2 separate regions of the Homo sapiens genome follow, and region 2 is linked to region 1. Evidence: fine-mapped expression QTL. A gene starts in region 1. The other region holds a variant in brackets. All regions are shown on one strand. Distances are between the middles of the regions.

What was found.
Region 2: its variant is fine-mapped to the expression of ZBTB6 in activated CD8 T cells (Schmiedel 2018, PIP 0.95).

What each region holds. Positions count from the first base shown.
Region 1 is chr9:122,909,044-122,917,379 of GRCh38, reverse strand. It overlaps ZBTB6 (zinc finger and BTB domain containing 6), which reads left to right and starts at 4,057. Exons shown (of 2, transcript NM_006626.6): 1 at 4,057-4,129; 2 at 5,299-8,336. The coding sequence starts at 5,308. The coding sequence ends at 6,582. It overlaps ZBTB26 (zinc finger and BTB domain containing 26), which reads left to right. Exons shown (of 2, transcript NM_020924.4): 2 at 1-1,814. RefSeq lists enhancers at 1,767-2,524, 3,993-4,222, 4,233-4,342.
Region 2 is chr9:122,866,007-122,874,342 of GRCh38, reverse strand. All of the region lies in intron 9 of RC3H2 (ring finger and CCCH-type domains 2), which reads left to right. Among named protein-coding and RNA genes, the nearest start is that of SNORD90, 10 kb to the left of the region's middle. The variant AT/T (reference allele first, on the strand shown) is at 4,782.

The sequences.
Region 1 (8,336 bases):
AGAGTCCTTAGAGAATCTTAAGAGGTCATTTACTCCACCTCTTTCATTTTAAATTGGGGTATCCAAAGCCTGAAGAGGTGGCCTGGCCAATATTGACCAAGGTATAACTAAATATGAGCTAGCATCTTCTTCCTTCTTCTCGCTATCCCTTGGCTTTAAAAGATTTAGTACATGAAGAATAATGCATTAGCAAAAAGCTCCTAGTTTGTGTTTCCCCTTTGTGTCTCCCTGTTGGCTTTCTGAGACAACCTGAATTTTGCCAACAAAATATCGCAGAGGGATTTATATTAATTATTTTTTAGTTAGATGAATATTATATTCTTCCCATCCAAGTGAGTGATTTGCTAGGTTTGTTTAGGGAGGGAAAAAGCAAGAATAATGTGAGAAGAATCTAAATGCGAAGTTGATTTTGTGTGGAAAACTGTTTATTAGTTTCCATCAGGATTTTCTGTTTTTATTTTTGAGCTATGAGAGTGCATGCAGATTTGAAAAATTAGGCTTGCATAGTCAGAGGGGATCTTCAATTGTTATATTTGATACGTTTACATGTATCATTGTTATCATATGTAAATTATCATCATGTGAGTCAGATGTGAAGTATGATTTTTGTCTTTTGTTCAAATATTTAAAATGATAATACAGTTGAGTGGTAAGACTAATAGGTACCTTATGCCTAACATCACTCATTATATGGTCTAATGATGCTTCCTAGCATTGTGATTTTTACATGATCCAGCCAAAGAGTACCAATTCTATGCAATAGTGAGACTCTACCCTGTCAACCAAACAGCATTTTTTGGTATTTTCTGTCAACATCATTTCTTCACAGGGAAATTTCAAGTTGGAGTGCTTCGTTTGCTCACATTCATGTCTTGTTTTTGTTACTGGTTTGAAGACTAAAAGGCACGGGTTCAAATAAGATTGGTCTCTTTGGTTGGAGACTATTTCTGGGTTCATTCAGTTGTTCAAGAAACATTAGTTAAGCACCTACTGTTGCTAGACACTATGCTAGATACTGAGGATAATGAAGGTAAGATTGATATAGTCCCTGCCCTCATGGAGCTTATAGTCTCATGTGGTCTTAGTGAAACAAAGTCTCAATTTGCTTTTATACTAGAAATAATAAAGAAAGCTGCCTTGCTGTATTCGATCAGTTAAAATCAGCAACTTTGTGCTTTTGTATCAGTAAAACATTTAGTTCTCACCTTTTGAAAATGCAAACCACTGAAGTGATTTACAGTCTCCTCCATTTTTGGCTGGAGAGGTGTTCTGTTTCTGTGAGACATTTTTCTAATTTTTGTGGAACTTCACTTTCCTCCTTCTTTGCTTATACGTGTTTGTTAGATTATATTGCAAAGAAGTCAAGTTACTGATATCCAGTATTTTACAGAGGAAGATGACTTTCAAAACTAGTCATATTTCTGTAGAGGAGGAAGATTTTTAAAACCTTTATCATTCAGCATTTGTATTTTATGGATCCCCAGGAGAACTAAAAAGGAGATGACTCTCTACCATAGTTTGGTTTAAAAAAAAATTACTCTGTCAGTTATTTATTTATTATTTAATACTAAACTCCAAACTGAAGTGGCTCTGAGGTAAATCAGATATGATTTTAATTTAAGTTTCTTTATTAGCAGATCTATAAATGGAAGGTGACCAATGTCACTGCTTCTAAAATACTGTCCTAAACAACCCAGAAGATTTTATTTCAGCTCATGAATAGCTGTTCTAAATCTGTTGTATGTTAGACATACTATGAACTACCTCTTCACTTATTATGGGGAAGTTTCCTTAATAAAAGTGTGACGATTAAAGCTCTGGTGTCATTGGTTATTTTCTCACTCTCCCCTCCTTCTATTCTTTTTTAATTGCTTTACTTTGAATACAGGAAGGTCTTCTTTATGTATAGTCTTAAAAATACATATTAAGCATGCTGAGCTTGCCTTCAGAAAAAAATACGAATTAATCAGAAAGTTGTTACTAGATTCATTTACTTCCACGAGAACCTGTTGCTGGAGGAGCAGAGCAACTGCCTTTAAGAATTGGTTCAGAGGCGGCCGGGCGCGGTGGCTCACGCCTGTAATCCCAGCACTTTGGGAGGCCGAGGCGGGTGGATCACAAGGTCAGGAGATCGAGACCATCCTGGCTAACACGGTGAAACCCCGTCTCTACTAAAAATACAAAAAATTAGCCGGGCCTGGTGGCAGGGCATTAGTCCCAGCTACTCGGGAGGCTGAGGCAGGAGAATGGCGTGAACCCGAGAGGCGGAGCTTGCAGTGAGCCAAGATCGCACCACTGCACTCCAGTCTGGGCGACAGAGCGAGACTTTGTCTCAAAAAAAAAAAAAAAAAAAAAAAAAAAGGAATAGAATTGGTGCAGAGGCCGGGCGCGGCGGCTCATGCCTGTAATCCCAGCACTTTGGGAGGCCAAGGCGGGTGGATCACCTGAGGTCAGGAGTTCGAGACCGGCCTGGCCAACATGGTGAAACCCCGTCTCTACCAAAAATACAAAAAGTAGCTGGGTGTGGTGGCAGGCACCTGTAATCCCAGCTACTCGGGAGGCTGAGGCAGGAGAATTGCTTGAACCTGCTAGGCGGAGGTTGCGGTAGGCCGAGATCGTGCCACTGCACTCCAGCCTGGACCACAGAGTGAGACTCTGTCTCAAAAAAAAAAGAAAAAGAATTTCTTCAGTCATATCTTCATTCAGCACAAATACTTGATGCCTACCAAGTGCTAGACTTCGAGAATACAAAGATCAGTAAGCCACTGTCCTAAATAACTCTGCCTAGATGAGGCACAAATTAATACAGGCGTGTTAAGTGCAATAATGAAGGCAGGAAAAGGGATTACAGGTTTCAAACTGGGAACCAATTATCTTAGGGCAGTTCAGGATGGCTTCAGGATGATGAGATTTATAAACGGGTTCTTTAAAGATACGTTGGGGAAGGCCGGGCTCGGTGGCTCACGCCTGTAATCCCAGCACTTTGGGAGGCCAAGGCGGGCGGATCACGAGGTCAGGAGATCGAGACCATCCTGGCTAACACGGTGAAACCCCGTCTCTACTAAAAATACAAAAAAAAAAAAATTAGCCAGGCGAAGTGGCGGGCACCTGAAGTCCCAGCTTACTCGGGAGGCTGAGGCAGGAGAATGGCGTGAACCCAGGAGGCGGAGCTTGCAGTGAGCCGAGATCCTGCCGCTGCACTCCAGCCTGGGCGACAGAGAGAGACTCCGTCTCAAAAAAAAAAAAAAAAAGCCTGGGGAAAAGGCTAGGGCACGTCAGAGGAAACAGCTGGGCCAAAAGTTTTGGGATGGAGGAACGCATTTAAGTGTGAAGCTAGATCCAGAGGTTGGGGCCATCTCCTGATGGGGCATTATCTAGGCAATCTCGAATACGGATCTTTATGATAGTTTCTGCTCTGCCACCTTTCAAGTTGTAGGTGGCCCCAATAAGGAGAGGAATCGTCCCAGAATAATCCATAAAAGGTCTGGTTACTCTGACAGACGTGCCGTAACCGAACCTCAAACCCCGTCTCCAATTCGGATGTTCAGGAGGACTCACAAAAGGAAATGGCTCGGCTGGGCGCGGTGGCTCAACCCGGTAATCCCAGCATTTAGGGAGGCCGAGGCGGGCGGATCTCCTGAGGTCAGGAGTTCGATACCAGCCTAGCCAACATGGTGAAACCCCGTCTCTACTAAAAATACAAAAATGAGCCGGGCGTGGTGGCGGGCGCCTGTAATCTCAGCTACTTGGGAGGCTGCGGAGCGAGAGTCGCTTGAACCCGGGAGGCGAAGGTTGCAGTGAGCCGAAATCGCGCCATTGCACTCCAGCCTGGGCAACAAGAGCGAAACTCCGTCTTAAAAAAAAAAAGGGATGGTGGGGGAAAACGGCTCGAGTGCCGAAACTGGGACAAGAGAGATGGGGCTTGCCGGCATTCAGGAGCCTTTCTGTCATTCCAAGAGGGGGGAAGTGAGGAAGGAAGACCGTCTCAGAATGTCCTTCCGGGGCGCCTAGAGGGCCCCAGTAAAGAATAAAGCTGGTTGGCACCGGATGTGTTTTCTTCCAGGCTAAGTCCATCTTCCGGCTTGGGCAGACGCTGCCGCGGAATCCTTGACTCTAGTTTTCTGAGTCGGTGAGTGAGTGCAAAGTAGATTCCTCAGGTGGAGGGTGCCTGAGGAAGAGGAGGAGGAGGAGGAGGACAGCTGGGCTCGGCCCCGGAGTGGCTAATCTTGTGCTGCAACCACTGGGCCGACAGGGCCTTGGCCCTTCGCAGGGTTGCCTCCAGAATACCTGTGTGCTGAACCTGGCATCCGGTTTCAGTTCAGCAGATGTTCCCTGAGCTCCTCCTGCTCTGTGTGGGCCCCTGAGCTCGGTGCAGGAACACAGATGCATCAGGCACCATCTCGCGGTGCTCAGAGAGCAGCTGACTCTCTCTGGTTGAAACGGGAGGTGGAGTCATATTAGTTTTACTTGATTTGGGCTTAAAGGAGCCTAATCACTAGCTGAAAAAAGGAACTGGAAACGCGAATGTAAGAAATGTGTATTCGTGTCTTTTTGTCTGGGTAATGATGGAAAAATTTAGTATTGAACGAGGTTCGAGTATGAAAAAGAGAATAGAAGGTGATAAAGCCATAAAGATGGGTTAGAGCCAAATCGTGATGGGTCTCGTATTCTTTCCTAAGAAATCTGGACTGTCCCGGAGGTAGAGAAGAACGATAGAAGATTTAAAGCAGAAAAGGGAAATTAAAAATAAAATAAAATAAGGGTTGTTAATCCTGGTGGCACTCAGGCGGGTAATCTGGCATACAGAAGAGTGTGGTATAAAGAAGACCTGTTGGAAGACATTGCAGTTGTCCAGGTGAACCGGAAGGAGGACCTGTTGTAGTGGTGGGGAGTAGGAAGTTTGGAGATTACGTTAAAGTTGCTAATTGGATATATTATGTTAAATCAACTTTTTGGTGGTCACAGTGCTTATATTGGATATTCAAAATTGATAGATTGTTCTTGACCACAAGGCACACAACATTTAGCAAAAGAAACAAGCTAGAAACTGTTCACTACAATTCATTGTAATGAATGTTGTAACAAAGTTATGAAAAATGTGCTATGAGATCATAGAGAAGTGCATTATAAAGTTCTCGTTTTGAGATGGTGGCATAAAGGTTCATAACACCTACATTAGACTTTGAGTCTTCTTCTTCCTAATTCAGGTTTGGGGTTTTTCGTTTGTTTTCACCATTACAGCATGGGAAAGCATTCCCTATCCTTATTACATCAATGTTTGTGTTTTATTTTGCTTAGATTGTGATCATGGCTGCTGAGTCTGATGTTCTGCATTTCCAGTTTGAACAGCAAGGAGATGTGGTCTTGCAGAAAATGAATCTTTTGAGACAGCAGAATTTATTTTGTGATGTATCAATTTACATTAATGACACTGAGTTCCAGGGGCACAAGGTGATTTTGGCTGCTTGCTCCACTTTTATGAGAGATCAGTTTTTACTCACACAGTCAAAACATGTCAGAATCACCATCTTACAGAGTGCAGAAGTTGGCAGAAAATTGTTACTGTCTTGCTATACTGGAGCACTTGAAGTTAAAAGGAAAGAGCTTTTGAAATACTTGACTGCTGCCAGTTACCTTCAGATGGTTCACATTGTGGAAAAGTGCACAGAAGCTTTGTCAAAGTATCTGGAAATTGATCTTTCTATGAAAAACAACAACCAACACACTGACCTGTGTCAGTCTTCTGATCCTGATGTTAAGAATGAAGATGAAAATTCTGATAAAGACTGTGAGATAATTGAAATTTCAGAAGATAGTCCTGTAAACATAGATTTCCATGTTAAAGAAGAGGAAAGCAATGCTTTGCAGTCTACAGTAGAGAGTCTGACATCAGAGAGAAAGGAAATGAAGTCACCAGAGCTGTCTACAGTAGACATAGGTTTTAAAGACAATGAAATTTGTATCCTTCATGTAGAATCCATCAGTACAGCTGGTGTCGAAAATGGGCAGTTTTCACAGCCTTGTACCTCTTCAAAAGCAAGCATGTATTTCTCTGAAACACAGCATTCATTGATCAATTCTACAGTTGAGAGCAGAGTGGCTGAAGTTCCTGGGAATCAAGATCAGGGCTTATTTTGTGAGAATACTGAAGGAAGTTATGGTACAGTGAGTGAGATTCAGAATCTGGAGGAAGGTTATTCACTGAGGCACCAGTGCCCCAGGTGTCCTCGAGGCTTTCTTCATGTTGAAAACTATCTGCGCCACCTTAAAATGCATAAACTATTCTTATGCTTACAGTGCGGAAAAACATTTACACAGAAGAAAAATCTCAACCGACACATCCGAGGACACATGGGCATACGGCCCTTTCAGTGTACTGTGTGCTTGAAGACATTTACTGCCAAAAGCACACTTCAGGACCACTTGAACATACACAGTGGGGATCGGCCATACAAATGCCACTGTTGTGATATGGATTTCAAGCACAAGTCTGCTCTCAAAAAGCACTTAACCTCTGTCCATGGCAGAAGCAGTGGTGAAAAACTATCTAGGCCTGATCTCAAAAGGCAAAGTCTACTATAATTATAATCACAGACTTGTTATATAAAGTTTGTATTATTCTATTACGCAAGTCTTTCTGTAGAGATGCAGCATTTGTAATATTTCATCCCCCCAATCTTTGTTTCTTATATTTTGTCGGCTTACACATAATCATTCTTTCTGAACTTCTAACAGTTCCAAAGTTATGGGAGGCACAGTAAAGCTGATGGGATTCTGTCTCATCTCATACCTTACATATAAGTCTCAGTAGTATCCCTAGAGAAATAGTGTTCCTCTCTTATATATTCTTGATTCTAGTGACAAAGGATCCAGCAGTATTTGCAGATTCCGATTTGGAGTCTCTAGGTAATTGATTTAAGTATAAAATCCAATCATATAAAAACTTTAATGAATTAGGATAACAAGAAGAGAAAATAAAGGTAAAAACACTATTACCTGTTTCTAGTCACTTTAGAACAGATGGCACTAAAAAAATTTTTTTTTAACTTTTTACCAGCTGTTCTTGGATTCCAAACTAAACACCAAGATACTTTTCATTTTAAAATGTATAAAGTAACAATTCAGATTCACTTGGGAATAGCAGAATTTTTTTATACAGGGTTAATAATCCTTAAAATACTTTTATTTCCATGCCTTATTAGTATACATACTTAAGAAATGGTTCATTGGGCCCGAGTTTCTTGATTTTATTTAATACAATCGGATTTAATAATTTTGTGGCCAGTAAAATTATACCATTGGCATGAAGCTGTGAAAAATGAGAAATTCTACCTTTACCAGGGATATCTGTTCTACTGTTTTAAAAGTTCCTCTCTATTTTATTTTTTATTTAACATGAAGTAAAATTGAAATTTCTTCTTGGTGTATAGTTCTGTGAATTTTAACAGAAAGATTTGTGCACCACTACTGCAGTCGGTACAGAACAGTTCCTTCACTCCCAATAGCTCTCTTATGCTGTCCCTTTGTAGTCAGCTCCTTCTAGCTCTAATCCTGGCAACAGTTCTCCGTCACTATTATTTTGCCTTTTCTGGACTGTCATATAAACAGAATCTTATAGTACGTTCCCTCTTGAAATGCTTTTTCACCCAGCATAATGACTTTGAGGTTCATCCATGTCATTTTAAATTTTGAATTGGCAATATATATTCTAGCTGTTACTAGATGAGCAATTTAAAAAGGTGTAGCTATTAGTGTTGTATTTTTTCATTTACATTAATGTAATTTCCATTCACTATGTGTTGATAAAAATCTTAACCATCCCTAGAGTTTTATATTTCCAAAAATATGCCAAAAGGAAAACTATGACTGTATGATTATTTTAGCGAGAGTCATATTTGAGATGGTGTTCTGAGCCATAGTTCTCTAACATCTCCGTCTACATATAACACAAAACTTTTATAAATTATTTTAACAAAGATTAAAATATACTGCAGGGCAAATAATATTCTCTAAAACACAGGAACTGCTTTTCGTAAAGAAGACTGACTAGATGCATCTTTCTTTGAAGCTGTTCTAGTCCTCCTCTAGTTAACTTAGCTTTATGTAGAATTTCTACTGTATTTAATTTCTATTGAAGCCCTTCTGTATTTTAAAATGTAATATACTTTGTACCATTTATAAAAATTGTGTGATGAATGAATCACATGTTCGTTGTTATAAGTGTTAACCTTTTTTTGACAATTTTGTGGGAAAGACATTCTCCACTGAATTTTAACTTTCCTTGAGACTTTCAAGAATGCAGGTCTCGTTTGATGAAAAAACCGACTTCATAACCC
Region 2 (8,336 bases), 43 kb after region 1:
TTCTTTTTAAAATATGTGTGTCTCCTTTAAATTCTTAATTAGTTCCTCAGTACATCACAGAATCTCATCCTGATTTTATCCTCTAGCTCTACTCTGCCATTTGTATACTTTGTTTTTAAGGTATATTCAATTAATCACTGTTGATTACTATATAAATTTCTTTTACTCTTCTTTTCACTTGTCTATATTGTTTATTCCATATTGTATTATTTTCTCTCTCCTCTTTATCTGGATAACTATTTCTAATCATACTCAGATATTATCTTCCCTCCACAGACTTCCCTAGGCAGTGTTAATTGCATCCTTCACCATGCTGCCATAGCACTCCATACATAGTAGTTTAAAAATTATGGTATAGTTAGCTGGGTGTGGTGGCAAGCACCTGTAATCCCAGCTGCTCGGGAGGCTGAGGCGGGAGAATGGCTTGAACTTGGGAGGCAGAGGTTGCAGTGAGCCGAGATGGCGCCACTATACTCCTGTGTGGACGACAGAGCAAGATTCCGTCTCAAAAAAATAAATATAAATAAATAAATAAAAATTATGGTATAGTTATAAAACTACAGTATTATAATTGTTTATTTACATGTGTGTTTTCACTGGACTTCATTTATCTCATGGGTTATTAATCTTTTTTTTTTCTGGAGACAGGGCCTCACTCTATAGTGCAGTGGTATGATCTTGGCTCACTTGCAACTTCTGCCTCCCAGGCTCAGGGGATTCTCCCACCTCAGCCTCTCGAGTAGCTGGGACCACAGACACACGCCACCATGCCTGGCTAAATTTTTTTTATATTTTTTGTAGAGATGGGGATTCACCATGTTGCCCAGGCTGGTCTCGAACTCCTGAGCTCAATCTGCCCACCTCAGCCTCCCAAAGTGCTAGGATTACAGGCATGAGCCATGGCACCTGGCAAGGGTTCTTCATCTTTATATTTCCTGCATCTAGAAAACACCTGATAACATAAACTCAGTATGTTTATGTGGAGGAGCAAATAATATACAGTTCTTACTTCTTATTTCCAACCAGCTTCACACTCTATTGCTGTTTAAACAAACAGGGATAATACAAAGGATTAGAAAAGTAGGTGATGTGACTGTCCTTTCAGTTTAAAAAATACATATTGCTACCTCACTCTGAGCTTTTTGAGGATAGGCTGTTTGTCTTAGTTCACATAACACCAGAAATTCAGCAAATGTTTGTTCAACTTAAATAAATTAATTTTACCTATATTTTCTTTCTCTATTATACACCCCTCTAACCAAACAAAATGTGGATGCTCAATAATCCCTTCTTAGAATACATATTTATTATATGTAAACATAAAATAAATATGTAGAATAAATATTATGTAAATATGTGGATATGTTTTAGAACTAGGATGTTGGGGTTATGTTCCAAAGAATTGCTACATTCTGGGGAGTGTCAAAAGCGAGGGATCAACCAACTCAACAAATAGTGGCCAGGAGCAGTGGCTCATGCCTGTAATCCCAGCACTTTGGGAGGCCAAGGCTGGTGTATCACTTGAGGTCAGGAGTTTGAGACCAGCCTGGCCAGCATGGGGGAAACTCTGTCTCTACTAACAATACAAAAATTAGCCGGGCATGGTGGTGCACGCCTGTAATCCCAGCTACTGGGGAGGCTGAGGCACGAGAATCGCGTGAACCTGGGAGGTAGAGGTTGCAGTGAGCACCACTGCACTCCAACCTGGGTGATAGAGTGAGACTTTGTCTCAAAAAAAAAAGTTATAAAAGATTATTATATACTGGTTACTATTCAAGATGTTTCTAATGGAAAAAGAGGAACAGTAAACATGTAAATAAGCAATTTTGGCCATAGCAAAGAATTTGGATTTTATTCTGTTTGCAATAAGAAGTCATTTTAGAGTTTTATTTAAATGGAATGATGAAATTTTCATTTTGTCTTAGACATATCACTCTGGTGTCTGCATGGATGGAGACAAGTTAAACTTCTATATTGGTCCACAGGTGGGAGTTTGGTAGCTCGGGTAGGACTATAGCAATGGAAATGATGAAAAGTAGTCATACTTAGGATATATTTTGGAAGTAGAGCTGACAACATGGACCAATTGAATGTGGGCTATAAAGAAAAGAGAGGAATCAAGGATGACTCCAAGGTATGGAGCCTGCATAACTTAGTGGTCTCTTGCTGAAATGGGAAATGCATCAGGGCAGAAAATCAGTGGTTCTCTTGGCCATAATGATGTTTGAAGCTTATTCTATATTAATGCAACAAATAATAATTGGGGGCCGGGTGAGGTGGCTCACGCCTGTAATTCCAATACTTTGAAAGGCTGAGGCAAGAAGATCACTTGAGCTCAGGAGTTTGTGACCAGCCTGGGCAACATAGCAAGACCTTGTCTCTACTACAAAAAAAAAAAATTGGCTGGGCATGGTGACTCACTCCTGCCTGGGTGATGGAGACTCTGCCTTTAAAATAATAATAATAATTGGGCACTTGGGATGTTATGAGACAGTGTATTGTGTGCTAAAGATAGAGAGATGCAAGAAAGGCAAAAGTCTTGTCCTCCGGGGGCTTACATTGTAGTAAGAAGACAGACATGAAATAAATAAATATAGCATAATATCTTGTAATGACAGGCAGTATGAAAAAAAAACACAAAGGAGAAAAAGAGTGATTGAGAAAGGGGAGATCTCTTAGATAGAATAGTGTAGGAAAGACTCTTAGAAGATACAACATTTGGCCAGGCGCAGTGGCTCACGCCTGTAATCCCAGCACTTTGGGAGGCCGAGGCAGGCGGATCACAAGGTCAGGAGATCGGGACTATCCTGGCTAACACGATGAAACCCCCCCCCCCACTAACACGGTGAAACCCCGTCTCTACTAAAAACAGAAAAAATTAGCCGGGCCTGGTGGTGGGCAACTGTAGTACCAGCTCCTCGGGAGGCTGAGGCTGGAGAATGGCGTGAACCTGGGAGGTGGAGCTTGCAGTGAGCTGAGATTGCGCCACTGCACTCCAGCCTGGGCAACAGAGCGAGACTCCGTCTCAAAAAAAAAAAAGAAGATACAACATTTGAGCAGGTAGTCAAAGAAGGTGCCCACGAGAAAAAAAGATAATTACCTCAGTGAAGTCTTAGAGGAAGGCAAATGGGCTTGAGACCTAGGCCACAGGTGGTGAGACTGGCTTTAGTCAGGAACAGGAACTCATTGTCCCTTATCTTTAAGAGGAATGTGGCTACAGGTGCAGGAAGGTTACTGGAATTGGTAGCGGAAAGATAAATTATTCTCCTCTGCTTTCATCTATTTTCGTGGTTAAGTGGGAAACAATATCATCTAGCTGTAGGAGGGGTGGTTGAAAGTGGAAGGGAAAAGGCTATTGGAGATGGGAAAATGAACTTAGTAAAGAAGCGTATTAATGAATTATTTATAATTTTGAAGGGATTATAGACAGCGTGATTGCACAATTTTTCTCCAACATTTAGCTGCTTGGTAGCAGGCACAAAATAAGTAAAGAATTGGATTGAGCTTTTACCAAATGAGATACAGAGGGAGTGGATCAAGGGAGTTAAAAATTATTTACAAGGGAGGGATTAATGGTAGATAGTGGATTCTAAGATGGGTAAGAAGGGATTTAAAAAGAATAGGGAGAGTTACGCATGGTGGTGCACACCTGTAGTCCCAGCTACTCTGGAGGCAGAGCTGGGAGGATCACTTGCATTTAGGATTTAAGGCAGTCTAGGCAACATAGTGAGATCCTGTCCCTGAAAAGGCAGCCTTTAGCTGCCCCAATACTAAGAATTCAGTGTATATCCCTACTTGTCACTTGCTTTACCTCACTTGGTTAAGATTTTATTTCTCCTGACTCTTTTTTGAGAGGTTCATAGTTAAAACTTTATTTTTTGCTTTCTAGAGCAACCTTGTGGATTATCTCAGTTTGTTGTTTTTTTTTTGTTTGTTTGTTTGTTTGTTTGTTTGTTTGTTTGTTTTTGGAGACAGAGTCTTGCTCTGTCGGCCAGGCTGGAGTACAGTGGCACAATCTCGGCTCACTGCAACCTCTGTCTCCCAGGCTCAAGCAATTCTCCTGCTTCAGCCTCCCAAGTAGCTGGGATTACAGGCATGTCCCACCACTTCTGGCTAATTTTTGTATTTTTAATAGAGACGGGGTTTCACCATGTTGGCCAGGCTGGTCTTGAACTCCTGACCTCAGGTAATCCACTCGCCTCAGCCTCCCAAGGTGCTGGGATTACAGGTGTGAGCCACCATGCCCGGCCAAGTTTTATTTTTTGAGGATGGAAAGCAAGGAGACACGATATTCTGTATAGGAACTCTGAGGAAAAGAATAATGAGAGTAGGTTTCAGAGAGAATGTGGAGGAAGGCATAGGGATCTTTGGGCCCCTCCAGACAACCAGATTGTCTTCCTGAAATATAGGTCTGCTCATGCCCTTCTTGAAAGAAGTAATTATTGGTTTTCCTCTTATCTATAAGATGATGTTGGCCAGGCACAGTGGCTTATGCCTATAATCCCAGCACTTTGGGAGGCCAAGGCAGGCGGATCACTTGAGGTCAGGAGTTTGAGAACAGCTTGGCCAACATGATGAAACCCCATCTCTACTAAAAATACAAAAATTAGCCAGGTGTGTTGGCAGGCGCGCGCCTATAATGTGCACCTGTACTCCAGAGGCTGAGGCAGGAGAATTGCTTGAACCCGGGAAGCAGAGGTTGCAGTGAGCTGAGATCACACTATTGCACTCCAGCCTGGGTGACGAGCAAAACTCCGCCTCAAAAAAAAAAAAAAAAAAAA[AT/T]CGTGTAAACTGGCCATCACCTGTTTTTTTAATATTCTGTTACTTCACTTTTAGCCAGTCTAATCTAGGAGCACTTGTCTTTTATTGAGCATCACCTTCCTCTGCCAATGTGTACATGTTAAAGAGAAGGAGAAGAGAAGGACTGAATAATGAAGTTGTTTATAGATACCAGAGGACTAAAAGGGAAACTATTGTGAAGGCATTGCTTACTACTAACACTTTATATTTAATTACCATATGTTTATATATAACATTAATAACATTACTTTAGGCATATATAATTATGACACCAAATATGTATAGTCTTCTTTCTGTTCGTGAACTTAATTTTTCACCGCTTTAAAAATGTTGTAGGGGCCAGGCATGGTGGCTCACACCCGTAATCCCAGCACTTTGGGAGGCCGAAGTGGGCAGATCACCTGAGGTCAGGATTTTGAGACCAGCCTGGCCAACATGGCAAAACCCCATCTCTACTAAAAATACAAAAGTTAACCAGGCGTGGTGGCAGGCACGTGCCTGTAATCCCAGCTACTTGGGAGGCTGAGGCAGAAGAATCACTTGAACCCAGGAGGCGGAGGTTGCAGTGAGCCGAGATCGCGCCATTGCACTGTAACCTGGGCGACAAGAGTGGAACTTAACCCCCCCACAAAAAAAAAAAAAAAAAACACATACACACACACACACACACACACACACACACACACACACACACACACACACATATAGGAGGGAATATTGTTAAGGATTATATTATAATGAAATTTTGGTGTATACATAGAAACACATTTTCTTTTTATTTATTTATTTATTTATTTATTTTTTATTGATCATTCTTGGGTGTTTCTCACAGAGGGGGATTTGGCAGGGTCATAGGACAATAGTGGAGGGAAGGTCAGCAGATAAACAAGTGAACAGAGGTCTCTGGTTTTCCTAGGCAGAGGACCCTGCGGCCTTCCGCAGCGTTTGTGTCCCTGGGTACTTGAGATTAGGGAGTGGTGATGACTCTTAACGAGCATGCTGCCTTCAAGCATCTGTTTAACAAAGCACATCTTGCACCGCCCTTAATCCATTTAACCCTGAGTGGACACAGCACATGTTTCAGAGAGCACAGGGTTGGGGGTAAGGTCACAGATCAACAGGATCCCAAGGCAGAAGAATTTTTCTTAGTACAGAACAAAATGAAAAGTCTCCCATGTCTACTTCTTTCCACACAGACACGGCAACCATCCGATTTCTCAATCTTTTCCCCACCTTTGCCCCCTTTCTATTCCACAAAACCGCAATTGTCATCATGGCCCGTTCTCAATGAGCTGTTGGGTACACCTCCCAGACGGGGTGGTGGCCGGGCAGAGGGGCTCCTCACTTCCCAGTAGGGGCGGCCGGGCAGAGGCGCCCCTCACATCCCCGACAGGGCGGCTGGCCGGGCGGGGGGCTGACACCCCCACCTCCCTCCTGGACGGGGTGGCTGGCCGGGCGGGGTGCTGACCCCCCAACCTCCCTCCCGGACGGAGCGGCTGGCTGGGCAGAGGGGCTTCTCACTTCCCAGTAGGGGTGGCTGGGCAGAGGCGCCCCTCACCTCCCGGACGGGGCGGCTGGCCGGGCGGGGGGCTGACCCCCCCACCTCCCTCCCGGACGGGGCGGCTGGCTGGGCGGGGGGCTGACCCCCCCACCTCCCTCCCGGACGGGGTGGCTGCCGGGCGGAGACGCTCCTCACTTCTCAGATGGGCCGGCTGCCGGGCGGAGGGGCTCCTCACTTCTCAGACGGGGCGGTTGCCGGGCGGAGGGTCTCCTCCCTTCTCAGACGGGGCGGCTGGGCAGAGACGCTCCTCACCTCCCAGACGGGGTCGCGGCCAGGCAGAGGCGCTCCTCACATCCCAGACGGGGCGGTGGGGCAAAGGCGCTCCCCACATCTCAGACAATGGGTGGCCGGGCAGAGACGCTCCTCACTTCCTAGATGGGATGGCGGCCGGGCAGACGCTTCTCACTTTCCAGACTGGGCAGCCAGGCAGAGGGGCTCCTCACGTCCCAGACGATAGGCGGCCGGGCAGAGGCGCCCCTCACATCCCCGACAGGGCGGCTGGCCGGGCGGGGGGCTGACCCCCCCACCTCCCTCCTGGACGGGGTGGCTGGCCGGGCGGGGTGCTGACCCCCCAACCTCCCTCCCGGACGGAGCGGCTGGCTGGGCAGAGGGTCTCCTCACTTCCCAGTAGGGGTGGCTGGGCAGAGGCGCCCCTCACCTCCCGGACGGGGCGGCTGGCCGGGCGGGGGGCTGACCCCCCCACCTCCCTCCCGGACGGGGCGGCTGGCCGGGCGGGGGGCTGATCCCCCCACCTCCCTCCCGGACGGGGTGGCTGCCGGGCGGAGACGCTCCTCACTTCTCAGATGGGCCGGCTGCCGGGCGGAGGGGCTCCTCACTTCTCAGACGGGGCGGTTGCCGGGCGGAGGGTCTCCTCCCTTCTCAGACGGGGCGGCTGGGCAGAGACGCTCCTCACCTCCCAGACGGGGTCGCGGCCAGGCAGAGGCGCTCCTCACATCCCAGACGGGGCGGTGGGGCAAAGGCGCTCCCCACATCTCAGACAATGGGTGGCCGGGCAGAGACGCTCCTCACTTCCTAGATGGGATGGCGGCCGGGCAGACGCTTCTCACTTTCCAGACTGGGCAGCCAGGCAGAGGGGCTCCTCACGTCCCAGACGATAGGCGGCCAGGCAGAGACGCTCCTCACTTCCCAGACGGGGTGGCGGCCGGGCATAGGCTGCAATCTCAGCACTTTGGGAGGCCAAGGCAGGTGGCTGGGAGGTGGAGGTTGTAGCGAGCTGAGATCACACCACTGCACTCCAGCCTGGGCACCACTGAGCACTGAGTGAACCAGACATCGTCTGCAATCCCGGCACCTCCGGAGGCCGAGGCTGGCGGATCACTCGCGGCTAGGAGCTGGAGACCAGCCCAGCCAACACAGTGAAACCCCGTCTTCACCAAAAAAATAAGAAAACCAGTCAGGCGTGGCGGCGCGCGCCTGCAATCGCAGGCACTCCGCAGGCTGAGGCAGGAGAATCAGGCAGGGAGGTTGCAGTGAGCCGAGATGGCAGCAGTACAGTCCAGCTTCGGCTCGGCATCAGAGGGAGACCGTGGAAAGAGAGGGAGAGGGAGACCGTGGGGAGAGGGAGACCGTGGGGAGAGGGAGGGGGGAGGGGGAGGGGGAGAGGGAGACATTTTCTTAAATGGAATCCAAAATCAAATTGCCAGTCCTTTTGTGTATTAGAGTATTATATCCAATGATCACCATAAATAAAACTCAAAACTTAGTATCAGAAAAATCTTTCATACAAATGTTTTTAACTTTAGGTATAAACTATTCTGAGAACTATAATACAGAATTTCTATTTTTGTGTAATGTTTGTTTAAGAATGAGTTTTTTAAATTATTTTTTTAAATTATATAATCCTTTTACAGTTTGGTAACAACAGAAAATGGCTTCAGCTCTTGCATACCTTTTCTCTTTACTCTGTGTTCTCAACCAAATTTGTTGCCAGTTCCTGTCATTTTTACATAACATC